Homo sapiens: one gene and its partners. The protein of the gene in region 2 purifies or fractionates together with the protein of the main gene of each other region. This does not show direct contact. Each region holds a gene or a part of one and is shown on either strand. Other genes may lie near its edges.

Region 1 (4,291 bases), on a different chromosome or scaffold from region 2:
TTGTGTGTTCGGTGTTTTAGATATATTAATTCCTTTAATCTCCTACCACCTTAGTATGTGAGTAGTATTATCCAAGGTGACAGCGAGTAGATGGTAAAGCTAGATTATAATTATGATCTGATTCTAAGGCCAATACTTCACCAGAAGGCTCTATCTTGAAGTCTGACACGTTTGAGATTAGTTAAAACTAGACTACCAATTTTGGTTTTTTCTTTGTTTTTTGAGACAGAGTCTCACTATCACCCAGGCAGGAGTGCAGTGGCGATATCTTGGCTCACTGCAACCTCTGCCTCCTGGGTTTAAGGGATTCTCCTGCCTCAGCCTTCGGAGTAGCTGGGACTACAGGCGTAAGCCACCACACCCGGCTAATTTTTGTATTTTTAGTAGAGATGGGGTTTCACCATGTTGGCCAGCCTGGTCTCGAACTCCTGACCGCAGGTGATCCGCCTGCCTCGTCCTCCCAAAGTGTTGGGATTACAGGCGTGAGCCAACGCGCCCAGCCTAGACTAGCAATTTCTCAAAGGGTGGTCTGCAGACTCCTGCATCAGAATCACTGGCAGTGTGTGTTAAAAATTCAGATTTCCTGACGGTGTCCATGACCGAAGGAATCAACACCTTCGGCCGGGCGTGGTGGCTCACGCCTGTAATCCCAGCACTTTGGGAGGCCGAGGTGGGCGGAACACCTGAGGTCAGGAGTTCGAGACCAGCCTGGCCAACATGGTGAAACTCCATCTCTACTAAAAATACAAAAATTAGCCAGGCGTGGTGGCGGTCGTCTGTAATCCCAGCTACTCGGGAGGCTGAGGCAGGAGAATCCCTTGAACCTGGGAGGCGGAGGTTGCAGTGAGCCGAGATAGTGCCACTGCACACCAGCCTGGACGGCAGAGCAAGACTCCATCTCAAAAAAAAAAAAAGCACCTCCAAGTGATTCTGTTGCAGGGGATCTGTGGATGATGCAGATTTTTTTTTTGTTTTTAATTTTTTATAGAGAAAGGGTCTCCCTATGTTCCCCAGACTAGTCTCGAACTCCCGGGCTCAAGCGATCCTCCCACTTCGGCCTCCCAAAGTGCCGGGATTACTGGCATGAACCACCACACCTGGCCCAGAATTTCGGATTGTTCTTATGCAGACGAAAGCATTAGGACTCATATCTAGGTTACCGGAATTGTTGAAAGCCAACAGCACACGGCATTAGCCAACTTCAGCCCTGCTCAACAGCCTCTATCCAAATCAGCTCCCGGAGCCGCTTAGCAGCCTGCAGCCGCTGAACAGAACTGAGCACGCGCAATATTTAATCCCCACGGGCGCTGGGTGGGGCTCCCTAGGACCCCGCCCCCTACCAACCTGCGGAGCCAGGGGGCGGGGCTCTCCAAAGTAATTCCGGCTTCTCCCGGCAGCGGCCCAAATCCCCGCCCCCAGCTCTCGGACCAATCAAACGGCAGATTGCTGAAACAAAGGACCAATGCCCAGGGCGGTCCTTAATTCCTCCCTGCAGTTTGAAACTGTCAGGTTGCCGTCTAGGTAGCGGTTGTGCTTGCTGAGGCTGCACTTGCTGACACTGCAGCTGCGACGCGGCTAAGAGGCGCAGAGCGAGGAGTCGGGATTTGGTCGCGAGCGGCGACGGTGGGTAGCAGCGCTCCGGGCAGATCCTGCGTCCCTGCATCCCTGGCGAAAGTAGTGGAGGGAGATTTAAAGTTCCTTGGCGCGTGTTTCCTCCCCCTGGGCTCTTCCCCAGACCGCGAGTGATTCAGCTGTTGTGCCGGAAGGTCCCAAAGTTTCCCCTCCGAGGCGTGCAGGAAGAGGAAGTGAGCAGGAGTGAGGGATGCTGAGCGATTACTGTCATCAGAGGTTCCGGTCACTTAAAACGTTGAGAAAAAATAACCATGTATAAAGCTCTGTTGTGCTTAAGTAAGATTTTTCTTAAAACAGGCTGGGTCGGAAGGTGATGGAAGAAAACTTATGGCCTTTTGCTTACTGCAATGGCTTTTCTCCTCTGCTTCTAGTCCCTGCTTTGGGGAGGGGCTGGCGCGCCCCTTTCCTTGAGTGCAGCTAGGCCTGGTGAAAGGCACAGGCGACATCACCCTGCTGCTAGTTTGCATGTTAATTCGCTCTTCCTTTGCCTCTTGGGGGTTCCATTTGAATTCCCAGACCCCTGTTTTGCTGTCAGCCAGATAATTACCAAGATGTTATTTTATGTTTCTGGCAACAGAGAAGCACACAAAAGTTTTGATCTTGTTTTCTGATACCTTGGATTAGAGACTACTGAAAATGTAGTGAACTAATGTGCGTCCGCCACCCATTAAAGCAGTTTTCATTTTTCTCCTTTGTTTCTGAACCTAGAAACAGTAAGGAAAATGCTACTGTTCTAGAGTTTCAAATAACTCATACCTTGTTGACATAAAGCAGGGCAGATGGAAGATAGCATATTTTCCAAGAGTGCGGTGGGTTTTTTTGTGTCTGCAGTGTGTCCATATTAAGAAACAATTTTTGAGATCTGACCATACTTACTAGCTCATTTTTAAATAATCAGCACCCCCCCCCCCCCACCCCTGTTACCTGCCTGGTCTCAAATCCTGAAGGAAGAAGTGAATAAAAATATAAATGGACCAAGTTATCACAGTGGTAGATTTGAAGTCAGTGAAGCAGCCATTCCTTGCTGCAGATACATGCACTTATTTTATCCTCCCTAATTGGCTTAACTAAAGACAGTCATGCTGAGATTTAGTTTACTTAACATGTGTATGCACAGTGATACTCACTGGAAAAAGTTGAACTTTCCTTTCCACAATTTAGTTCCAGCCTGTGTTTCCATTCTATTTTTGCACTTTTCCCTGTATCTTCCTTTTCTATTTCAATTTCCTCATCTCTCATTTATTTTTCAGCCCACTGTGACTAAGACCTGTAATTGTTTTACTTTCCAGTGAAATTGTTCAAGCAAACGTCTCAGCAACCTCCTAATCTCCAAATTCTATCCAATCCTCATGGTTCTTTGGCATCTAATTCTATTTTCTTCTCAAAGTTGTGATATTGCTTCCATAGTTCTAATGTTCTGACTTCCTTTGCTGACTCCTCTTCTTTGCTGACTGTTCTTCTCTTGCCCTTTAGATGTTAGTGGTTCTGGCTTTAACCCTCTTCTCATTCACAGTCGTAGTCCTTAACTCTATTAGGGCTATGGTCCCCTCTGAACGCATATTTAAAGCGAAAGATCTTCTTTCTAGAAAAATACACATTCACATTTATGATAAAAATATTGCATACGAGTCGGGTATAGGGACCTGATATGGTTAGGTCTTGTGTCCCCACTCAAATCCCATCTTCAATTGTAATCTCCACATGTAGGGGAAGGGAAGTGATTGGATTATAAGGGCGATTTCCCCCGTGCTGTTCTCATGATAGTGAATTCTCACGAGATCTGATGGTTTTATAAATGGTAGTTTTTCCTGCACTCTCTCACATACTGTCTCACCTGCCGCCATCTAAGATGTGCCTGCTTCCCCTTCTACCATGATTTTAAGTTTCCTGAGGCCTCCCCAGACATGCGGAACTGTGAGTCAATAAAAATTCTTTTATTTATAAATTACCCAGTTTTGGGCAGTTCTTTTTTTTTTTTTTTTTTTTTGAGACGGAGTCTCACTCTGTCGCCCAGGCTGGAGTGCAGCGGCGCGATCTTGGCTCACTATGAGCTCCGCCTCCCGGGTTCACGCCATTCTCCTGCCTCAGCCTCCCAAGTAGCTGGGACTACAGGCGCCCACCACCACGCCAGGCTAATTTTTTGTATTTAGTGGAGACGGGGTTTCACCGTGTTAGCTAGTATGGTCTTGATCTCCTGACCTCGTAATCCTCCCACCTCAGCCTCCCAAAGTGCTGGGATTGCAGGCATGAGCCACCGTGCCCGGCCTGGGCAGTTCTTTATAGCAGTTTGAAAAACGTACTAATACAGGACCTCAGGATAAGAACTTTTTCTCACATTCCTTTTTTATAGGTGGTCTCATCCATTCCCTTTTTTCAGCAGTTCCCATTATGCCAGTGATTCCTCAAACTGGATCTCCAACTTATACCTCCAGTGCGGCGCTCCCACAATGCTTAACTCCAGGAAACACCATTCACAGTGTAGCCATTGTGAATGGCAGTTCTTGGAGTAGCGCACTACGTAGCCAGTGTGACCACAGACTGCATACTTGCAGCTTTACCCTAGTGCCTCAGAGGCATCCTCACACCCAGCTCATCTGATATGGCACTCATTGTCCTTCCTCCCAACCTGCTCATCTTCCTACCTTCCTTGCCTTGGTGA
Region 2 (3,072 bases):
CACCTCTGCACATCTGCAGACTGCGGCAGCTCCTGTCCCTCCTCCTCCAGAGACCTCAGTGACTCTTGGTACTCTCCCTTTCCCAGGTTCTCTTCCTCTTCCAGATTCCTTTGACTTTCCTTGTCTACCTCCTCTGGAGATCTCAAATTCTCCAGGTTCCATGCTCCCAGAGATCTCAATGATTCCTGATTCTCCTCTTCCAGGAGTCTGAATGTCTCTTGGTTCACTTCCACAGACTCCAGTGGTTCTTGAATTTCCTTTTCTAGAGGATTCATTGCCCCCTGATTTATTTCTTCTGGAGTCCACAGTGGTGCTTGAGTTTCTGGAGATTTCAGTGTTTCCAGGTTCTCTTGTCCCGCAGACTTCAGTGATTCTAGGATCTCTGTTTCTAAAGATTTTACTGCCTCTACGCTCTCTTCTTTGAGTGACTTTAAGAACTCTTGATTCTCATTTTCAAGAGGTCTAGCTATCTCCTGGTCAAGAGACTTCAGTGGTTCTAGATCCACTTTTTCTGGGGGTCTTAATGTCATCTGATCCTGTTCCCCTAGAGACCTCCGTCGCTGTTGAGTCTCTTTTTCAAGAGTTCTCAATGTCTCTTGGTCCTGTTCTTCTAAAGACCTCAGTGATTTGTGATTCTCTGTTTCTAGAGGTCTCACAATACTCTGGTCCTCTTCTTCTAGAGTCTTCAGTGGCTCCTGGTTCTCTTTTTCTAGAGATCTAAAGGCCTCTTTGTTCTCATCTTCAAGAGACCTCAGGGGTTCCTGATTCTCCTTTGTCAGAGGTCTCAGTGCCTCCTCATCCCCTACTTCTGGAGATCTCAGTGGCTCTTGATTCTCCTTTTCCAGAGCTGTCAATGACTCTAAGTTCTCTTGCAGAGAACTTACTAATTCTTGATTTTCCGTTCCTGGAAATAAAAATGTCTCTAGATTACCTTCAAGAGATTTCATTAGTTCTTGATTCTCCTTTTGCAGGGATTGCAATGTCTGTGTGTCCTCTTTTCCTGTAGGCTTAAGTTGGCCTACAGCCTCTTTTTCTAGAGGTCTCACTACCTCCACATCCTTTAATAGCTCTTTATTTTCCTTTTCTAGACTTTTTAGTGTTTCTAAGTCTTCTTCTAAAGACCTCGGACATTCTTGATTCTCCCTTTCTAGTGTCTCATGGCTCTGGTTTTCCAGAGTCTTCAGTGACTCTTGAATCTCCTCTCCCAGAGACTTCAGGGTTTCTTTTTCCAAAGGAACCTGGGAGTCCTGGATTTCCTTCCTGTTTAGATCCTCTTCTTCCCATATTTCCTGCTGCAAGCTGCTTACCACTTTGCCCTCTATGGCTGTTTCTTTCTCTACCAACCCCCAGATTTGCCCTTCACCTTCCCCTCGGCATATGCTGAACACTCTAGACCCACCGGATTCTCCATCCTTAGCCTCTAAACTGGAGTGGTCAGGGCTGAGGGGTGGTGCCAAGGAGGCATGGTCCTCTGGGGACTGGCCTGTACTGGCCTCTTGCCGCTGGCCCCCAGGCTCCTCTGGTCCAGGCAGGACGCTGGCAGGAATGGCCACCCTGGCTTCAGCCCGCAGGGGCTCTGGAGCCTGTTTCCTCCCACCCTGTGTCTGGAGCAGAGAGAGAGGAGCATCCTGGGCTCTGATCTCTGCATCTACAGCAGGAGAGGGTGCCTGAGGTGTGGGGGGGATGGGGGTGCTGGCCAAGGTAGGGGTACGGGCCTGGAGGAATTCTTGGTTCTTAAGAAAGGCTGGCACAGGTGTCTCAAGGGTAGCAGGCAAGGGTGAGGGGAGGGAAGTTGGGCTCAGGACTGGGAGCAAAGATCCAAGACGCCGGCCCTCTGGGGTCCTAGGGAATTGCAGCTCCAGCTTGGGGTCTGGAAAGGCAGAGGGGGAAGAAACAGCATCAGTATATCACTGGCAATGAGGGGAGCCACAGAGCAGCCACCGCTGGCAAGAGTATCCATGCGCCTGCCCCTGGCGCCCATGGCTGGGCTGAGAGCATGCTCACTGACACTGGAGGCCACGGACTTGAAATTTAGATTGGTGCCTCTCGGGAAAGATAGGTCTGGGTATGAAGAGCAAAGCAGGGTAGTTTCTGGGGGAACTTGGCCCCTCCTCTTACCCTGAAAGCTGAGGGAAGTCTTGGAGCCACCGCCAGGTGTTTGCAGCCGGGAGTTCTCAGCCTCCAGGAGGGTCCTGGAGAGGACAGAGGGAAAGTGGGGTCAGCCCTCTGCCCCCAGGCCTGCAGGCAGCAAGCCAGCTGGGGACAACTCAGGCTGAGCTTGCACCATCCAGGCCCTGCAGGCTTCCTCTTCATTTGACACTGTCACACAAAAGCCACACTCAGGGTGAAATCACACAGTCACATACCCACAGACATCACACACTTGGTCACACAAAGTCACACTGTATTTGGGATACACAGCAGAGCTCAGACATAGAAGCAGATTCCCACACAGTCGGACATTGCCCTACACACACCCACACAAGGCTTAGGCTAGCCTCCTCCTCCCACCCCAGGCCAATGACCTCATCCTCTGTGTGGGGGACCGATTCTCATGCTAATTGCTGCCATTGTCCAAGCCACCATCTGGAGGGTCTGAGAAGGAGAGGATTCTGGGGAAGTGGGAATTCTCAGGCCGTTCCCATGGGATGGGCTCCCTCCTCCTTCCCCGGTGGCCCCCAGAGCTAGCGACAGACAAAAGCAAATGAATTCAGCTCCCCCTCTCCAAATCCTTTTCATGCCTCAAAAAATAGCAGTTAAATTCCTCGGGGCCCACCAGACCCTTCCCCTTGGTGGCTTCACTGGGGGTCAGGGCCCTCATCTCAGGATCTCTAAGCACTCTGGATCCCAAGCTCTTCGGGGCACAGAGGTCTTTGTGTCCAGGCCCCTTCCTCAGCGCCCCTTGAACCAAAGAGGGGAGCAGGGACCAATCAATTCAATAACTTAGGATGAGCAGCTGCTCCTCTCTGCTTTGCTCCATGATCTCTGAGTCTGGTTAGCACTCGCTGTAGCCTCACCTCTGTCCTTGCCAGTGCTGCGGCCTTCCTTCTGGGCTTCTCTTCCCTGGCGGTG
Region 3 (3,500 bases), on a different chromosome or scaffold from region 2:
GGGCGTGGTGGTGCGCACCTGTAATCCCAGCTATTCAGGAGGCTGAGGCAGGAGAATTGCTTGAATCCGGAAGGTGGAGGTTGCAGTGAGCTGACGCTGCGCTCCAGCCTGGACAACAGAGTGAGACTCTGTCTCCAAAAACATAATAATAAATAAAAATAAATAAATAAACAAGTCCAGTTCCTCAAGTGTGCCGGCCACACTTCCCATGCTCACAGCCATGCCTGGCCGGCGGCTGCTGGGCTGGACGGCGTGGGCTGTCGAGTCCCTGTCTCAGCCTCTAGCGGCCCTCACCTGTTGCCTGGGAGCCCTGACATGGCGACCTGTGTGTCCCTTCTGGCCCCCGGGGAGGGCTCAGCAATGTCAGCCCTGCCTCTGGAGGGAGCTGTTTCAAGACTGCGTAAGTCTGGGTTGGGTGGGGCCTGGGATTCTCCCGGTGAAGGGTAGGATCCCCTGAGGTTTCACCTGGACGGGGCCTTGAGCGCCCACCGGCCTGGTGACCTCAGTCCTGTGCAGATGGGACCGTGATCCCCGCTGCAATGATGGGTAAGCTGAGGCCGGGAGGCCACGCGAGCAGAACTCAGCTCCGGCCTCCAACCCACGCCTCTTTGGGCTCCAAGACTGTGTCTTTGAGTCGAGGTGAGCTGCGGCCTGGTGGAGAAGGAGGGGGCTCCCAGCTGCCCCGCTGACCCCCTCCCACCTTTCGCAGGCCTTCCGCGTGGCCGAGGAGCACTTGGGCATCCCAGCCTTGCTGGATGCCGAGGACATGGTGGCCTTGAAGGTGCCTGACCGGCTGAGCATCTTGACCTACGTGTCCCAGTATTACAACTACTTCCACGGCCGCTCCCCCAGTGAGTCCCTGCCGCGCCCGCCGAGCCAGGCAGGACCAGGCCCCCCATCCTTGGCCTGGCTCCCAGGCCTGTGGACTTTTTGGGGTCCATGCCCAGCCCCCCCCCCAAGAATGGCCCCTGGCATGGGCACCGGGGCTGTGCACTGGCTGTGAAGCAGCAAGAGGCCTTGGTGGGCGCCCCATCCCCAACCCCGGCCCCATGCAAAGCCCCAGGCTGTGTCTTCACCAAGAGGGACCGGGGCCCTCATCCTGCTGCAGGAGAGCTGCCCCCGCTGCTTCCCCAAGGTGCCAGGTGCACCAGCAGCTCCTGCCGCCCTGCCCCTCATGGGCCTCAGTTTGCCCATCTGGACCCCTGAGCTTCTGTGCCCACTGGGGTGGCTTGGCTGACCAGGGGCAGCTCCTGGGCCTACCTTCATCTGTCCTGATTTTGGACCCTATGGAAGCCAGGCTGGCCTGGCAGGGTGGGGCCCCCGGATAGAACTGGGCAGGGGAGGGACAGGCCCGGCCTTTGTGTGTGTAGAGCTCAGCTCCCCACCCCCCCACCCCCACATTCCTCTTCTAGGGTTTAGAAATCCCCAGAACCATTCCGGGCACAGGGCCTGCCCTGCCTGCTGGAGAAACAGAAAAGTCCCTTTTCCCTGACTCCAGCTGGGGCTCTGAGTGGGGAGGGAAGGAGTGGGGACCGACCCGGGGCTGTGCCAGAAAAAGTGCCCTCAGGGTTACCTCTCCCCAGCCCTGGGCCCCCAGGTCCCCCCCGGGCACCAAGGCCTGTGCTGGGCACTGGGACCTCTGGAGGGACTAGACCCTTTCAGAGCCAGGCCTGGGACCCTCCCGATCCCTGCTTGATTCCTCCAGTTGGGGGCATGGCAGGCGTGAAGAGGGCCTCGGAGGACTCTGAGGAGGAGCCGTCAGGGAAGAAGGCTCCAGTCCAGGCGGCCAAGCTGCCCTCGCCCGCCCCAGCCCGGAAGCCTCCACTATCTCCAGCCCAGACAAACCCTGTGGTCCAGAGGAGGAATGAGGGTGCAGGGGGCCCGCCCCCCAAGACTGTAAGCTCCCACCCCACCCTCCCCCTGGTTCTCTGGGTTTTCCACCGGGGGGTGCAGAAGGGGCTTGTGGGACTACGTGCGGCCCCTAAGCCACGGGACCCAGAGTGGGGTGCGGCTCCCCCAGTCCAGGGCTCAGCCTTAGCAAGAGCCGCCAGGACCGGGCTCTCCAGGGCTCCATCAAGCCAGGGGTTGTGATCCCACTTTGTACAGATGGGAGAGCACAAAGGTGGGACAGAGCTTGAACCTAGATGGGCCCAGGATACCTCTCTCCCGGGGAGAGAAGGGTTGCTGGGCTATGCCCTGTACCCAAGGCCGGCTCTGCAGAGTGAACCCAGGCACCCCCACTTCTCAGAAGCGGAGTTGGGGTGGAAGGCGGTGGGCAAATATCTGGTGGTTGGCAGCCCCTGCTATGCCTGGACTGCCACTCCAGGCTCCCGGGATGGTGGGAATTGGATGGGATCCATGCCCCTAATGGGGCAGGAGGAGGCCTGGAATCTGTCCCCTGGCCCCCAGCCACCGAAGGACCACTAGCATCGGGCCTCAGCTCTCTCCCCAGGGCTGGGCTAGAGGCCCTGGACTGGGGCTGCCACCCACCTGGGTGTGACCCCGACCGCAGCCCTGCTGGCGGCTCCTCTCCTGGCCAGTTCTCCATCTGTAAGATGGGCTCTTCCGGCCACCTGTGGGCTGCCACCAGGAGGGAGGGCTGGGTGGACGGCTGCTCAGAGAGGTGCTGGCATCTTCCCCAGGACCAGGCATTGGCGGGCAGCTTGGTCAGCAGCACCTGCGGGGTCTGCGGCAAGCACGTGCACCTGGTACAGCGGCACCTGGCCGACGGGAGGCTTTACCACCGGAGCTGCTTCAGGTGGGGCTGCCCTCTGCCCGCACGCCTGAGTGTGCACCTCCCCTCCCAGAACCCTCCCACAGCTCCCATCGCCTCCCACCCGGCCTCCTCCTCCCCGCTCCTCGTTCCTCTCCCCTCTCCCCTCTCCCCTCCTCCCCCCTCCCCCTCCCCGTCTCCCCTCCTCCCGCCTCCTCCCCTCTCCTCCCCTTCTCCCTCTTCTCCCTTTCACTTTCCTTCCCATCCTCCCTTCCTTCTCCTCTCTATCCTCCCCCTCCTCCCCCCTCCTCTCCCTCTTCACTCTTCTCTCCCTAATGGTCCGCCTCCTCCCCCTTTTTCCCCCTCCTCCCCCCTTCTCTTCCTCCTCCCCCCTCCTCTCCCTCCTCCCCCCTCCTCTCCCTCTTCACTCTTCTCTCCCTACTGCTCCGCCTCCTCCCCCTTTTTCCCCCTCCTCCCCCCTTCTCTCCCTCCTCCCCCCTCCTCTCCCTCCTCCCCCCTCCTCTCCCTCCTCCCCCCTCCTCTCCCTCCTCCCCCCTCCTCTCCCTCTTCACTCTTCTCTCCCTACTGCTCCGCCTCCTCACCCTCTTCCCCACCCCCCGCTCTGTTGCTGATAGCCCAAGATGTTCTACTGTTCCCAGACACCCAGGACCTGATGCCCCTCACTAAGCCCCAGTGTCCCCCAGTGCCCCCGTCCAGATGCCTCCTCCAGTGCCCCCGTCAAGATGCCCTCCCGACTGTCCTTCCACACACACTGCCTCAGTCTCCC
Region 4 (3,500 bases), on a different chromosome or scaffold from region 2:
CAACAAAATTCAAGTCATAAGGAAGCTCGCACAGTGACCCATATAAATCTCCCAGCTGAGCCACCAGCTTTAACATATTCATATTCACCTAAACATGAAGAACGAGGGGTTCAGACAGGCCCAGATGGGTCTCTTTCAGGACCCTCCCTCCCGTTGATGCAGCGTTAGGACTCCGTTTAGGCGCAGAGCCACTTCCCATTAAAACTGCATGTGTTAGCAATTACTGCAAAATCCACAGGTGGCGGTTAATATAAATGGAACTTGAGCTCTGTCCATCAGGGAAGCGCCAAGACCAGGGCCCCCTCCAGCGAACGCACGGCCTATGATGTGAGCTTTGAGTAGCTGGGGGGAGAGAACCGTCTTCGCAGGTACTTGAGGACATAGAGGGGGAGGCAGCTGACCAGAGTGATGACGGAGACTTTCCACAAGAATGACAAGGTGGCGATGAAGTACACATCTGCAAGGAAAGGGGAAGACGGCAGTGAGCAGGCAGGAATATTCCGGAAGGTGCATGGGGTCCAGAAACAGGCGTCACAACTATCAAAGGGAAAGTCATCTCCCGTCACAAACCCACAGCCTCCTGGCATTGGCCCTCTTTCTCCATGGACTGTAAGGGAAGGTACCATGGCTAAGAGCACACAGCGCCGCAGCTTGATTTTCCTCGCTCTCTCTTCTGTAGCTTCCTGACAGTGAAATGCTACTTTTAACACCCAGGAGAAGAAAACTATGGGGGCCACCAGATGCAGTGGCTCATGCCTTAATCCCAGCACTCTGGGAGGCCAAGGCGGGCAGAAGAATTGAACCCAGGAGTTTGAGACCAGCTTGGGCAACACAGCAAAACCCTGTCTCTACAAAAAATACAAAAACTAGCCAGGCATGGTGGTACATGCCTATAGTCCCAGCTGTTCAGGAGGCTGAGGTGGGAGGATCATCTGAGCCCGGGGAGCTTGAGACTGCAGTGAGCCAACATTGCACCACCGCACTCCACCCTGGGCAACAGAATAAGACACTGTCTCAAAAAAAAGAGAAAAAAAGAAGGAAAGAAAATTACAGGGGAAGAAAACTCAGAGATGCTTTTGATTTGGTGTTGTCTAACAGTTGGAGAGTCTTTCTAAGTCCCGGCCACTGGCGAGCAGAAAATGACATTCAAATGCACCCTCTGCTTCCAGTGATGGTCGCAGAAAGCCACAGGATGAGTCTGGGTCATGGTGCAAAGTGTTCAGACCCCCTTGTCAGAGAAAGGCTTAAGCTGACCCTCAGGGACTCTGATGGAAGGTGGGGGGGGCGGGCGTACTGCCTTTCCTGCTGCAGGATTATAAACCCGGTTATGAGGTTTTCTTAAGAGAGGAGTGACAGTTTGTGGCTTTCAATATAGCAGAAGCCAGAATAAGCCCCTTCTCCACTTTCTGAGCACAGGATGCTGAAATGCAGCTGCCACTGAGGCAGCACCTACTAAGTGCCAGGCCCAAGGCTCAACTCACCCTGTGGTTTTCCTACACCTCTGACCCGGTCCTGTGGTGTGTCCCTATCACAAACAAGCTGAGCTTCCTGAGCAGGGGCCACATCTCTGTGACCACCTCAGGCCCAAGCCTTTGAGCACATACTAGGTCTCACAAAACGCTTTCTAGAGACTAGTGACAAGGGTGAAACTGCTTTAAAACTCCACTGTTCACAGGGATGCTCCTTTAGTTCCTGGAGCGCACAGTAAATGCTCACAAATCCTTTCTAGAAACTGGGGCTGCAACTGTGAAACCTTTACTTTTCAGGGGATGTTTCTTTTACCTTTACTAAAACCTTCCTAAGGAGCTTTGGAAGCTGGCAAAAGAGCCGCGATCAAAGATGCTTCCAGGGTAAGGTCGAGTTTCTCTGCCTTTTTGTTGTTATTGCCCCTTAAGGAACATTTTTAGACTTTTCTTCTTCTCCTAATTGACCACCTCCATGACATGTTAATGTCACAGGTATACTGTGTATCTGTTTATAATATTATATATACATCTCCTTTATACGTAAAAGGTTAGGGTTTGTTCACACCCCACCAAAGACCACTGTTTGTTCCCCAGGCGGTGGGGTCCACACCACCCCCACTGAGAAGGCCTGAGGTAAAGGAGCAAGGGATGGGCCATTGCTAGAGAGCCTGGGCCCTGCAGGTTTCCCACGGAGGATGGGGCGTGAGGGGGTTGTCATTAACTGAAAGTTTCCCCCAGAGAGAGTCTATCCTGCAATCCTGAACACACATGAGCTTCTTAGCAGAGAAGCAGCCTCCGGGCCCTGCTCCCCCAGCTGATAAAGGAGAAACAGTATCACTCTTGAGGGTTTTTTGTTTGAATAACACAGACAGAAAATTAAATGCTCCTACTGAGGAGGAAAGAGGTGTAAAGAGGACTGTCTGCTAAACCAGCTAGACTTTCAGGATGACCCCTGGCCCTGAGGTTCCAAAGCCATAGCGGCTTGAGTTTGCCCCGTGCGGGGGAAACCAAGATTAGAGTTCAGAATCTATCCACAGCACAACACAGAAAATGCTGGATCATCTGAACCGTGCCCGTGTTGCAAGTTCTAGTTGAACTAGAAACAGGTTTCTAGACAGGAATTAAAGCCCGTGTCAGCACCCGATGGGGTCCGTAGCATAGCATGGGGTCATCTTGGTGGCCCTGCAGGGACTTGTGGCTCAATCAATTGGGAAGAAATTAACTGATATGGCAAAGCAAGTGAGGTCAGCATGGAAGAGTGATGAAACCAGGCTTGTCCATCTAGAGACAGTGGCTGACGCTGGACAAGCCCAAGAGTACCTGGAATCACTACTGAGGTCAGAGAAATCTGCCACCACCCCACATTAGGATGGTGCTGACACTCCCCCATCTCTACATTCCCATAACATTTTTTATTATTTATTTATTTATTTATTTATTTAGAAATGGAGTCTTACTCTGTCGCCCAGGCTAGAGTGCAGTGGCGTGATCTCAGCTCACTGCAACCTTCGCCTCCCGGGTTCAGGCGATTCTTCTGCCTCAGCCACCCAAGTAGCTGGGACTACAGGTGTGTGCCACCACGCCCTGCTGATTTTTGTATTTTTAGTAGAGATGGGGTTTCACCATGTTGACCAGACCGGTCTCAAACTCCTGACCTCGTGATCCACCCGCCTCTGCCTCCCAAAATGCTGGGATTACAGGTGTGAGCCATTGTGCCCGGCCTCCATAACATTTTTTATTTGGGGTGTGCCTGGGCGTCTAGCACCTCACCCCATTTTTCTTTCTTGGTAACTTTGATCACATCTGATATTCCTGTGCTCACACTCACTTAATGTGTGTTTATCGTGTGTTCCCAACGAGAAGGGCAGCTCCCTGGCGAGCCCGTCCACCTCATCTGCCACCATAATCCTGGCACACGGCAGGTGCTCCCACGTCTACGGAACTGGCGAGTACCTTCAGCACTTGGTTTGCTGTGAGGAGCAGCAGATTGTATTCTGAGATCCCTGGAGTCCCTCAGGAGCTCTATCAGGACAC
Region 5 (3,500 bases), on a different chromosome or scaffold from region 2:
TTCCACCAATAACACTATTACTGCTGCTATTACTATTGCCACCATTTACTGAACATTTGCTATGTGCCAAGAATTCTGCTAAACACTTTACATATAAATAATATGGTCTCTCCCTTTTATTCCTTTCCTTCTATAATCTATTCACCATGCAGCCTTCTGAAAGATCTTCAAAAATATGATATCAATTTTCCCTGCTTAAAATCCTCCACTGGCTTCCCATTGTTCTTAGAATAAAATACAAACACCTTATCATGGCTTTCCATGATCTGACACCCACATCCACCACCCAACACTGGCTCATATATACCCAATACCATGGCCTTCTGGCCGCTCCACATGATCTGTGGCATACACGGGGTCTCTTCCCAACTTCCCAGCTTACACTCATTGGTGTTTTGGCGTAGACTGCTCTTCCTCAGGCTTCTGCATGGCTGGTTCCTTCTCATGAGTCAAGTCTCAGCTCATATATTGCCTCCTCCCACAGACCCTCCCTCACCACCCCATCTACAGCAATCCCCTATCAATTGCTTTCATAGCACTCCAATTTGTTTCCCTGTCATTTATCAATGATAAATTATCACTCACTCAAATTACTTTACTCACTTGTTTACTTGTTTATTGTCTGCCTCCACTAGGATGTAAACTACCCAAAGCAAAGAGCCTTGTCAGACTTGTTCATGGCAATGTTTCAAGCACCTAGAAACTAACCTTCCACTTCCAAAGCCAACCATTACCTCCTAAATGAAAAGAAAAATTTAACCATTTATCTGATGGTATTATTCACAGTTGTGTTTTATTCCTGTCTCAAAAACAGAAGCATTCCACTTATTCACCTTTTCAGTCTAAATAGCAAGCAGATTTTAGGGTTGTTTTTTTTTTAAAAAATCCAAATCCCTTCAAAATGACACAAGATGATACAATTTTGATCAAGAAATAAAACTTGTTAAAGATTGGGTTTAGTGTCTCTTTTTTTTTTTTTTTTTAACAACTTACCTCTTTCTCTCTTTCATAGTCCTCTTCGTCATACTCTTCATCTTCATTTTGCACTGGTAGTGCCACACTGCCAAAGTCTAATGACATGGTCCTCCTGTGGGAAGGGAAAGATGTTTGGTTTCTGGACACCACATAAAATCTCCCCAGGACAAACTACATAAGAGATGCCATACATACACAAAGTGAAAAGACAGAAACAGACTGGGAGAAAATATGTATAACTCAGTTATGGCCAATAAAAATAATGGTGATTCACCGAAAATAGCTATATGACAGCAATTCATGGAAAAGAAAACATGCAAATAGGTAATAAAGCTATGAATAGACCTTTCTAGTGGTCTGAAGAGTATAAAACAGTAAGATTTTTGCCGACATGAAAAATAAGATGACAATAATAATAAACTAGAAATGTGCCAAATGTAAAAATCTTAAGCTCAAACAAAACTTCAAATGTGATATATTAAACATGGCACAGGCAGTACCCTATTGCTTCATTTTTTTTTAATATCAGAAATCCAAATATCATGCTTTACAAGAAGAAGGCCCCTAAATCATGAGTGAATGACTACTACCCAGAAACCATTTACAATTCAGTCAATGCCATAGAGTGCACAACAAAATATAAGTCTTAAATGTCCTCCTCTTAAGCTTGATAAAATCAGGTTCTGGCAATATACTCGGGAAAAACAGAAGTGAAGGCTGTGAAGCTCCACCACTGTGGACTTCCAATTCCAAAAGCAACAGCAAGAGTTCCCTGGGGAGCAGTGACTGCTGCGGCAGAAGCAGCAGCAGGAAATGGGTTTTCAACTACTTACATTCAAAAAAGCTGCTGCTGATTTAACTTGTACTTAGGGATCCTGACACTATACATAAACTCCTCAGAACTTCAAAGCTCTGAACAATCACAACAAAAAAGTAGGCAGGTGTCATCAATTACCTGGCCTAACACTGCCCTCCATTCAGTCCACTGTTGTTCATGCCAATGAAACGCACTTGGATGTGAGCCTGAGCCACAACTCATTCACTACACCTTTCAAGCTCTAAAATGTCATTAAATTGGAAGTAAAATCAGAAGCATGGAGACCCAGCAATCCAAATGCATTTTACCATAGAGAACTTAGCTCCCTCGTCTTAACAGATACGAACTATATCACAAACTTTTGTGGAAGCCAATAGCTCTAGAGCAGACAATATCCCATTTCATCAGATCTAAGATGTCTTTGATTCTATGATGCAGTTCCATTTGTAGCAGTAGGAACGAGATGTAGCCAATCAAATTATGACATAACATTAATTTTAGGACGCAGTCTATGTTGTAGATATTAAAGTGTGAAAAGAAAATATGCAAGCTAGAATAGATGAATATGGTATTAAAGATTAACATACATATGAACTTCAGTGGTAAAAATCCCCCTATGACAAGTTTTTGTTTTTCAAAGACTGAGTTATGTTTCTTGGCCAACCTCTAATTTGCAGTCTACCTTCTAATCCCTTCCTCTCTGGTCCCTACACCCAACCCGTCCCTTTAAACTCATATCAACTCAGACTATACCTCAACTTAAAACCCTCCAGCCTCTGCTTCTCAGACCACACCTATTCCTTTCTACCCTTGTGACAGGGCTAAACGGGGGAAGAGACATGCATATCGAGGAAAATAAATCTATCTATAAGAATCCTTTTGTATGTCAACATAAGATGAAGATATGAATATGATAAAAAGCCTGTAACATGAAATGGTGAGGGAAAAACACACAATCTCATGTCTCTAGATTTTTTTCCACTATGCAAATAGACTTAATATTCTACAGAACACTATATATATTGAAAATACTAGCCCAATTAAATCCTATGTCCTTAAAAGAGATGCCTGTAGTCCCAGCTACTCGGGAGGCTGAGGAAGGAGAAGGGCGTGAACCCGGGAAGCGGAGCTTGCAGTGAGCCGAGATTGCGCCACTGCAGTCCGCAGTCCGGCCTGGGCGACAGAGCGAGACTCCGTCTCAAAAAAAAAAAAAAAAAAGAGATGAAATTAAGCTGGACCTTAAAGAAATTCCTGAATCCTCCAGGCAGAAAAAATCCTTTCTGTTTCTGAATTCTGTGTCTTCTACCTTTCTTTCATTCAAATATAAATACAAGACGAAATATGGAATTTGGGTTACTTTCTCCTTCATTAAGTTAGAGAAGAGAGGTTTGTTCCCATCCTTTATTAACCTGCCATCAACTGATGTTGATTATTGAAAAAGAACATTAAGATTTATAAGAGCCTATTGCTAAAAATGTAGCTACTAATATTTTAAATAGACAGCTACTTTTTCTCAGATAGAGAATACTTAGGGTTTTGTTTTTAAAGAGAATGTAAAATATCAAAGTATATATCTTTAATGTTATTTTAAATTCAAAACATGTCATTAAAGAAGACATCTAAAAATACCTGAAAAGACCAAAATCTCCCCCACTGAAGAAGGTATAAGTTTTCCTTATCAGAACTATAAACTATAAAAGACTTTAAG
Region 6 (4,272 bases), on a different chromosome or scaffold from region 2:
CCTTGGTCCCCAGCGGCAGCGGGGCGCGTGGGAGCGCGCTCGGAGCCCGTAGACCCGGACCACCGGGCGGGGCGGGTGAGGGGACAATGGCGGCGCCAGGCCCTAATTGGGGACAGAGGCACCCGCGCGCGGCCATTGTGCGGCCCGGAGCCCCGGAGCCCCCGCGCCCGGCGCCCCGCCATTGGCCGCTGAGCCTGACGTCATGGGGGCTGCAAACGCTGGGCGGGCGGCCGAGGAAAGGGTTATCCGCCTGGTTGCGGGGCTGCCGTGGGGAGCTGCAGCCGCGCGGAAGGGCGGAAAACCCCCAAAGCAGCAGAATTTCTGGAGCAGGGTCGTGGCAGCCCCTCTCCAGCTCCACACCCGGCTCGCAGCGACGCCGCTGCGCCGCACACCCGCCCGGGGGGAGAGAGGCGGGGGCGGGTAGGCCCCTCCAGCGTGCACGGGGTCAGCCGGGGTGACCGAGCGGCGGGAGCCACTGCGGCACAGGGCGCGCGCTGCGCTTTCGCTGCCTCAGCACTTGCTCCTTCGGCTCCCGCCTCCCCCGCCCGCCCCCGCAGATCCCGCGCCCCAGGCCCCGAGCGAGGCAGGCGGGACTGGGGTCCTCCCTACGTTCCTCCCCACAAGACCCCGAGTCCGGGGCGCTTGGGTCCCAGGCCTGGCTCCATTTCTCCCCACACGCCCGACAATGCTGCTGGCTGCCGGGCCGCGGTTCCCCGAGCCGCGCGGGGGAATTCCCCACTCGCGCAGGCTGAGGCATCCCCGGGACCCCTCCCAGGAGACCCAGGCCGGGGCTCGGCCCAGCGCAGCCATTTCCGCCGGCCTCTCCCCCACCTCCCTCCCCCTCCCCCAGCTCCTGGGCTTTAAAAGCCAGAGGCTGGGCCGGGCCGCAGGCAGAGGCGGCTGCGGGCTCTGGAGGCCGGGCCCAGGAGCAGTCCGAGCGCCGAGCCCCGCCCCCGGAGCCCCTGTCCCTCCCTCCCTCCCTCCCTCGGCCCGCCCTCCCTGCGCACCCCTCCCCCCAGGACCCCCGCCCCCCGCCCGCCGCCGCCGCCGCCGCCGCCGCCGCCGTCGCCACTGCCGCTCGCTCCGGCTGCAGAACAATAAAGCAAGCCTCCCAGAGACCCCCGCCGAGGACCCCTGCCCGGCGGCCAAACCCCCGCGGACCGCCCCTCTCCGCCCGCGCCGGTTGAGCGCGCCCGGGCGCTGGCCGCGGTGCTGCCCAGGCCGGCGCTGGCCGCGGTGCTGAAGCTGCCGGCGCTGCCGCTGCCACCGCGTTCTCCGGGCCCGGCGCCGCCGCCCCCGGGGGCATGGGGGGCCGCTGACTGAGGCTCCGCCGCGGCGGCGGGGGGGGGGAGGGGAAGGGGGCCACCGAGCCGGGCCAGCCCTGCACCCACTCGCAGCCTCCAGGCCCGGGACGGAGCCGCTCCCCCCCTCTCCGCCCCCCCAGCCTCCTCCCCCGCCTGTCCAGGGGCGGCACTGCGGGCTGGGAAGCCGGGACCAGAGGAGGGAAGGAAGGAAGAGGAGAGGAGAGAAGAGGAGAGAAGGAAGGAAGGATTGAAGGAAGGAAGGAAGGATTGAAGGAAGGAGGAAGAAGAGGGATCCGGAGGGGCAACGGAGGAGACGCAGGGCAGCAAGGAGAGAGGACACCACTCGCGCGGCAGCATCCAAAGGCCAGAGTGGGGACCCGCGCTGCCTCCGCCGCTCCTCGGATGGTGACGGGGCCCTGCCGCCGCAGCCCCCCCAAGCCCCGGCTCCGCAGGCCCACAGCGCCGGAGCCCCGCAGGAATCATGCCCAGGTCCTTCCTGGTCAAGAAGGTCAAACTTGACGCGTTCTCTTCGGCCGACCTGGAGAGCGCCTACGGACGCGCCCGCAGCGACCTCGGCGCGCCACTGCACGATAAAGGTGAGCGCTGGTCTGAGACCAGGGCGCGGGGCCTGGGGCTTTGCTGGAAGCGGTGGAGGGCCAGAGTGTGGGGGCGGAGGGCAGGGCCCGGGGAAACAGACTGAAGGGAACCAGAAACGGCAAGAGTCTGTGGCTGGAGCCTGGACGGTAGAGGGGAGGAAGGGGAACACAGAGGCCAAGGCTGGGCAGGGAGAGTGTCGACGTTGGACAGAGGGTGGGGAAGAGGATCAGGAACTGAGGTACCCAAACGCACACATGGACCCACATCCTGACCCATGCTGGGACAGACACAGCCGCATGGGCGCTGCCATGACGGGACCCAGCCATGCCGGCACACACAGACCTACACTCAAGAGACCAGGGCCGCCTCGCCACCCTCTCCTCTTCCTTGACTGCACCAGGACACCTGCTAGGGTTAGCTGGGGAATGCAGGGAGCTCCAGGGAGTAGGCAGGGGGTCCAACAGGGCCGCCCACCTGTCAGAGCAGAGGGCCAGCAGAGGCAGCAGCAGTCTCTTCCCTGAAGCCTGGGTCAGGGAGAGGAAGCAGGGAGGAGGCTGTGAGCAAGGGACGCCCAAGGTGTGGGAGGCAGGGGGAGGCTCTTTGTGTAAGGGTGCCCAAGTTCAAGGACAACTGTCAGCATGCAGGAGAGGGGGACAGGAGTGCCAGCAGCATGGGGTGGCAGAGCAAGTGTGACCTGCAGGAGTGTGAGCCTGTGTGGGTCCATGTGACTGTGTGTGGCCATGTGACCGTGTGCGCTTGTGTGTGACCCTGTGTGTGTGTGTGCTTGCCTGTGTGCCACTACATGGGACCATGTGACTCTGAGGCCGCTGTGCACCATGTGACTTGAGAGTGTGTCCGGGGTGACTGCATGTGTGACCCTGCGTGAGTGAGGAGGTGGTGAGTTCGGCACATCAGTGTGCAGCCCACCCTGTGAGGGCACACAAGGGCTGATCATGCTGGGAGACTGGGTGTAGCCCTGAAGGAGGCAGAGCGTCGCGAGGGGCGTGCATTTGTGACTTTGAGGTTATGAGATCCATCTTGTGCCTGGGGAGCAACTGCAGCTACCGGTATAAGTGATGCTGCCCTCCTGCAGCTCGTCCCTGTGAAAGTGGACGCCCTGGCCCTCTCTGCACAGTTCAGGGGCTTGGGAAGGCCCTGAAAGGGGTTAGGGTGTGAGCAGGAGAGGGCAATGTTGAACAGGGTAGGACCCAAGGGTGCAGGATGGTGAGAGGGAGTTCGGAGGAGAAGCAGAGTGCATGGAGGAGCAGGGAGGGCAGGGTCAAGTCCAGTGGGTGGCCGGAGAGCTGAGGGAGGTGCTGGTGAGGCCGGAGGGAACTGGGGGAGGGAGACGTCTTCAGGGCTTGTTGGAGGAACCAGAAGGCCAGAGGGGGTCAACATCAAAATGGAGCGCACGTTCTGCAGGCCAGAGGGAGAGCCGGCCAGGACCCCGGAGAGGTGGGACAGACGGGGTCCCTGGGCCGGCAGTCCTGGCTTTGTGCGCCGCGGGTCTGCAGTGTGTTGCATAATCAGGGAAAACTGCTGAAGTGGGGAGAACCCGAGGGGGAGGGGAGGGTGGGTGGGGGAGGAGGGAGAGGGAAGCGCCGCCCCTCCCCCCTGACCTTGAGGCTCCGCGGAAGGGGGGCAGCCGCGCCCGAAGACGCGCCTCTCTCCTCCTCTCTGCGAGGGTGGGGCGGCGGGGGCGGAGCGTGGCCCGGCCCTGTCTCATCCTCTCCTCCCCTCTCTTCCCCTCCCTGCTGTCTCCATCCTCCCTGCCCGGCGGTCCCTCGGCCTCCTCTCCTTTGTCCTCCTCCCTGTTCGCCTCTCTCCCGGACCCGGGTCTCCCGGTCCGCGTCTGCTGTCTCCCGCCCCCCCATCCCCCGTGTGTGTCCTGCCGCCGCCCCATTCCCTTCCCGCTGTCCGTCCGCCTCCGCCCGCAGGGTACCTCAGCGACTACGTGGGGCCCTCGTCCGTCTACGATGGCGACGCCGAGGCTGCGCTGCTCAAAGGGCCGTCGCCGGAGCCCATGTACGCAGCAGCTGTGCGTGGAGAGCTGGGTCCGGCGGCTGCAGGGTCTGCGCCGCCGCCCACCCCGCGCCCGGAGCTGGCCACCGCTGCGGGCGGCTACATCAACGGCGACGCGGCCGTCAGCGAGGGCTACGCGGCGGACGCCTTCTTCATCACCGACGGGCGCTCGCGGCGTAAGGCTTCCAATGCCGGCGCTGCCGCCGCTCCCTCCACAGCCTCGGCGGCGGCCCCCGACGGCGACGCCGGAGGCGGGGGCGGGGCGGGCGGGCGCAGCTTGGGATCCGGGCCGGGGGGCCGGGGCGGCACGCGCGCGGGGGCAGGCACCGAGGCGCGCGCGGGGCCAGGG
Region 7 (3,500 bases), on a different chromosome or scaffold from region 2:
ATTCTCAGCAGAGCACTTAGCACCAACTATTATTTTTCCTTGTTAAATTAATTACTTTTTCCCAGCAGTAGACTGTAAGAGCTCCATGTGAGCAGGTATTTTGTTTGTCTTGTTTGCTTTAGTTTCAGGGCCTAGAGTAGTATCTGGATACAGCGAAGGCACTCATTAAGTATTTGTTAGTTAACCAATTAATTATTAATATTTCGTAGTCACACCTTGAAGACCTCAACCTAGGAGATCTTTATCAAAAGAACCTTGATCTGCTGGCAGATTTGTCAAACTCCTGTCCAGGCTTTTGACAGATTTGGCAAATGCCGCTTTTCTCTTTTCAAAATTACATTAGTAGTCCTTGTAAAACTGTGTCTAACATTTTATTGTAACCATATTTGGATTTAATTTTATAAATTACGTTTGGAAAGAGGACAAGAGACTCTTTGTAAATAAGCCTGTAATTTTTACTGGTGACAGCTTTTGTCACCTAGAATCAATGTGCTTATTCTTTTTGAGATTGCTGAAATGAGCTTTGTAAATATTTTTGTTGTAATATCATTTTATGGTATATTCTTCAAATTATATTGCTTTATCCATGGTGAATTCCTTCTGGAAATGGAGTAGGGGAGCACCTTGGATCTTTTCTTTAAACCCAAGTACCCAGGTTTTTTTGTTCTGTGTTTTTTCTATTTTCACACCAAAGTTAAACCTTTACAGTATTAGTTTTACATATAGACAGTCTTGCATTGTAGATGTTGTAAGGCATTGTCTCTACATATAAAATTCAGACTTGGAATATTTGTAGGAGATGTTAATAACACACAACAGAGGATCGACTTCTGGGCATGTTGTTTTCATAATCATTCGTCAAGCTCTCATGCTTAGCCTTGTTTTAGACACTGTACCAGAATTAGAGGGAAAAAACATAATCAGCTTACATTACAGGATTTACACATTGATGTGGTTCAGTCAAAATGCAAATAGTATTGACAGATATTCAGGGGCAAAACACAGGGGCAGGATGAATTTAAAAAGCAAGGGGAAGGAAAGAAGAAAGAGGAGGGAGAAAAATGACTATGTTATTAGTCATTGCTCTACACTTGAAGGCTGTAACAGATGGACACTTAGATAACCTTCATGGTCTGGTTTAATTTACTGCATATAATTTCCACAGTTCTTTCAGATGATTAAATGAGTGGTTCTTGACAACAATTACGAACATTTAAAGGTGGAAATTTATGCATATTTCCCTAAATTGCATGTCAGGTAGTTCCTGCTATAATTTTGCTAAATGTCCATGAATCTCTTGAAAAATACAACTCATAAATGTGGAAGGCCTATACATAACTTCCATTTCCTCCCTCAGATTCAATAATAATATATCATTTTGTGGCACAAATCTTTTTTTCTTTTTTTCTTTTTCTTTTTTTTTTTTTTTTTTTGAGACAGAGTTTTGCTCTTGTCCCCCAGGCTGGAGTGCAGTGGCGCAATCTTGGCACACTGCAACCTCCGCCTCCTGAGTTGAAGCGATTCTCCTGCCTCAGCCTCCTAAGTAGCTGGGACTACAGGTGCATGCCACCATGCCTGGCTAATTTTTTGTATTTTTAGTAGAGGGGGGTTTCACCACGTTAGGCAGGATGGTCTTGATCTCCTGTCCTCATGATCCGCCTGCCTCCGCCTCCCAAAGTGCTAGGATTTACAGGTGTGAGCCACGGAGCCCGGCCCAGCACAAGTCTTTTATCTGTTGTTAATCTGATGTTATTTAGTGGAACACTTCAGATGCATTCATAGAATTATACATTTTACTAAATATATCACAGCTTGAAATATAGTTTCCCCATTTTTATCAGCTTTCATAGAATTCTTAATTGATTTTTAAATGGCTAATATTGCTTATAAAAAGTAGTTGATCAAGCTCTTAAATTCCTATTTCTGAGTTCCTTGTTCTAGTTCACACTAGACCAGAGGTCAGCAAACTTTTTTCATATAAATCCAGATAATAAATATTTTAGGTTGTGTGGGTCCAGTCATCACCGTCATAACTGCTGTTGCAGTGTAAAAGCAGTCATAGAAAATAAATGTGTAAACGAATGAGTATGGCTGTGTTCCAATAAAATTTTATTTATGGACAACAATATTTGAATTTTATGTAATTTTCACGTCACAAAATAGTCTTATTTTGATTGTTTTTCAACTTTCACAGTGGGTTGAATTTGGCCTGTGAACCGCAGTTTGCAAACGCTGCCCCAAACTCAAAGTCACATCGTGAATTGTATGTCACGTGTCTTCAGGAGAAGAAATTTGAAACAAATCCAGAGAGAATTGTGTTTTACCTTAGTTACTCCGTTACTTAGTAGTTATCAGCTATGTATTAGACCAGTCACATATCTGTTAAAATCAGATATTTGATTCTAAAATATCTCAAGATTAGTTCAGAAACCTTGAAGGTAAATAAATGAAGGACCAGGAAAAGACTTCAGCTTAAAAGTATCAGGTTTTTAACATTTTTGTTACAAATTGGATTTGTTTTCACTCACTTGGATTTTTATCTGCTTACTTTGAAACAGTTCATCAGGTGAAATCACTCTAGAATTATTAGGTCAGCTTCTTTTATTTTCATTTTTCTTCAGAGGCCACACTTCTGCGGAAACAACATGCCCAGGAGGAAAGATGCTTTATATTTCAGTTGTGTTACATATAGGTCAGACATTACTGTTTTGAACTCCAAATAGTATTCTCACTTTATAGTTGTATTTGCATTTTTATTATATTATTAATACATATTGCTTGAAACAAGCATGGTTTTTGGTTGTCAATCCTTTTGTTAAAATATAACTTTATTTATTGTTATTATTTTGAGACAGAGTCTCACTCTGTCACCAAGGCTATAGTGCAGTGGCATGATCTTGGCCTACTGCACCCTCTGCCTCCCAGACTCAAGCGATTCTCGTGCCTCAGCCTCCTGAGTAGCTGGGATTACAGCCATGCACCACCAAGCCCAGCTAATTTTTGTGTTTTTAATAGAGATGGAATTTCGCCATGTTGACCAGACTGGCCTCAAACTCCTGGCCTCATGTGATCTGCCCGCCTTGGCCTCCCAAAGTGCTGGGATTACAGGTGTGAGTCACCGCACCCGGCAAATGTAACTTTACTTTGAAGACTTTTGTCTTAATGGGATTAGAACTGCATTACCATTTAAAGATGAGTTTCTGCTGGTTCCCATAGAAGTGTCAACATTTTTCTACGCAAATTTTTTCTTTTTTTAATTTGAGACGGAGTTTTGCTCTTACTGCCCAGGCTGGAGTGCAATGGCGCAATCTCGGCTCACTGCAACCTCCGCCTCCCAGGTTCAAGCAGATTCTTCTGCCTCAGCCTCCGGAGTAGCTGGGATTACAGGCATGCGCCACCATGCCCGGCTAATTTTGCATTTTTAGTAGAGACGAGGTTTCTCCACGTTGGTGAAGCTGGTCTCGAACTCCCAACCTCAGGTGATCCACCGCCTCGGACTC

Evidence for each region.
Region 1: the proteins of NES (region 2) and POC5 purify together in Homo sapiens (co-immunoprecipitation; one large-scale study listed by IntAct). This does not show direct contact.
Region 3: the proteins of NES (region 2) and MICALL2 purify together in Homo sapiens (affinity purification with mass spectrometry; one large-scale study listed by BioGRID and IntAct). This does not show direct contact.
Region 4: the proteins of NES (region 2) and ATP9A purify together in Homo sapiens (affinity purification with mass spectrometry; one large-scale study listed by BioGRID and IntAct). This does not show direct contact.
Region 5: the proteins of NES (region 2) and CEP152 purify together in Homo sapiens (co-immunoprecipitation; one large-scale study listed by IntAct). This does not show direct contact.
Region 6: the proteins of NES (region 2) and SCRT1 purify together in Homo sapiens (affinity purification with mass spectrometry; one large-scale study listed by BioGRID and IntAct). This does not show direct contact.
Region 7: the proteins of NES (region 2) and CMSS1 purify together in Homo sapiens (affinity purification with mass spectrometry; one large-scale study listed by BioGRID and IntAct). This does not show direct contact.

Annotation. Positions count from the first base shown.
Region 1 is NC_000005.10:75,714,638-75,718,928, reverse strand, and holds the start of POC5 (centrosomal protein POC5), read left to right. Parts: upstream 1-1,491; 5' UTR 1,492-1,623; intron 1,624-4,291. UniProt on the Homo sapiens protein: Essential for the assembly of the distal half of centrioles, required for centriole elongation. Acts as a negative regulator of centriole elongation.
Region 2 is NC_000001.11:156,671,336-156,674,407, forward strand, and holds part of NES (nestin), read right to left. Parts: intron 2,193-3,072; coding exon 2,119-2,192; intron 1,871-2,118; coding exon 1-1,870. UniProt on the Homo sapiens protein: Required for brain and eye development.
Region 3 is NC_000007.14:1,445,971-1,449,470, reverse strand, and holds part of MICALL2 (MICAL-like protein 2), read left to right. Parts: intron 1-709; coding exon 710-851; intron 852-1,705; coding exon 1,706-1,896; intron 1,897-2,642; coding exon 2,643-2,758; intron 2,759-3,500. UniProt on the Homo sapiens protein: Effector of small Rab GTPases which is involved in junctional complexes assembly through the regulation of cell adhesion molecules transport to the plasma membrane and actin cytoskeleton reorganization.
Region 4 is NC_000020.11:51,600,891-51,604,390, forward strand, and holds part of ATP9A (probable phospholipid-transporting ATPase IIA), read right to left. Parts: intron 458-3,500; coding exon 321-457; 3' UTR 1-320. UniProt on the Homo sapiens protein: Plays a role in regulating membrane trafficking of cargo proteins, namely endosome to plasma membrane recycling, probably acting through RAB5 and RAB11 activation. Also involved in endosome to trans-Golgi network retrograde transport.
Region 5 is NC_000015.10:48,804,570-48,808,069, forward strand, and holds part of CEP152 (centrosomal protein of 152 kDa), read right to left. Parts: intron 1,088-3,500; 5' UTR 1,081-1,087; coding exon 994-1,080; intron 1-993. UniProt on the Homo sapiens protein: Necessary for centrosome duplication; the function also seems to involve CEP63, CDK5RAP2 and WDR62 through a stepwise assembled complex at the centrosome that recruits CDK2 required for centriole duplication.
Region 6 is NC_000008.11:144,333,683-144,337,954, reverse strand, and holds the start of SCRT1 (transcriptional repressor scratch 1), read left to right. Parts: upstream 1-1,472; 5' UTR 1,473-1,785; coding exon 1,786-1,900; intron 1,901-2,763; exon of another isoform or gene 2,764-2,968; intron 2,969-3,838; coding exon 3,839-4,272. UniProt on the Homo sapiens protein: Transcriptional repressor that binds E-box motif CAGGTG. Can modulate the action of basic helix-loop-helix (bHLH) transcription factors, critical for neuronal differentiation.
Region 7 is NC_000003.12:99,824,362-99,827,861, forward strand, and holds part of CMSS1 (protein CMSS1), read left to right. Parts: intron 1-3,500.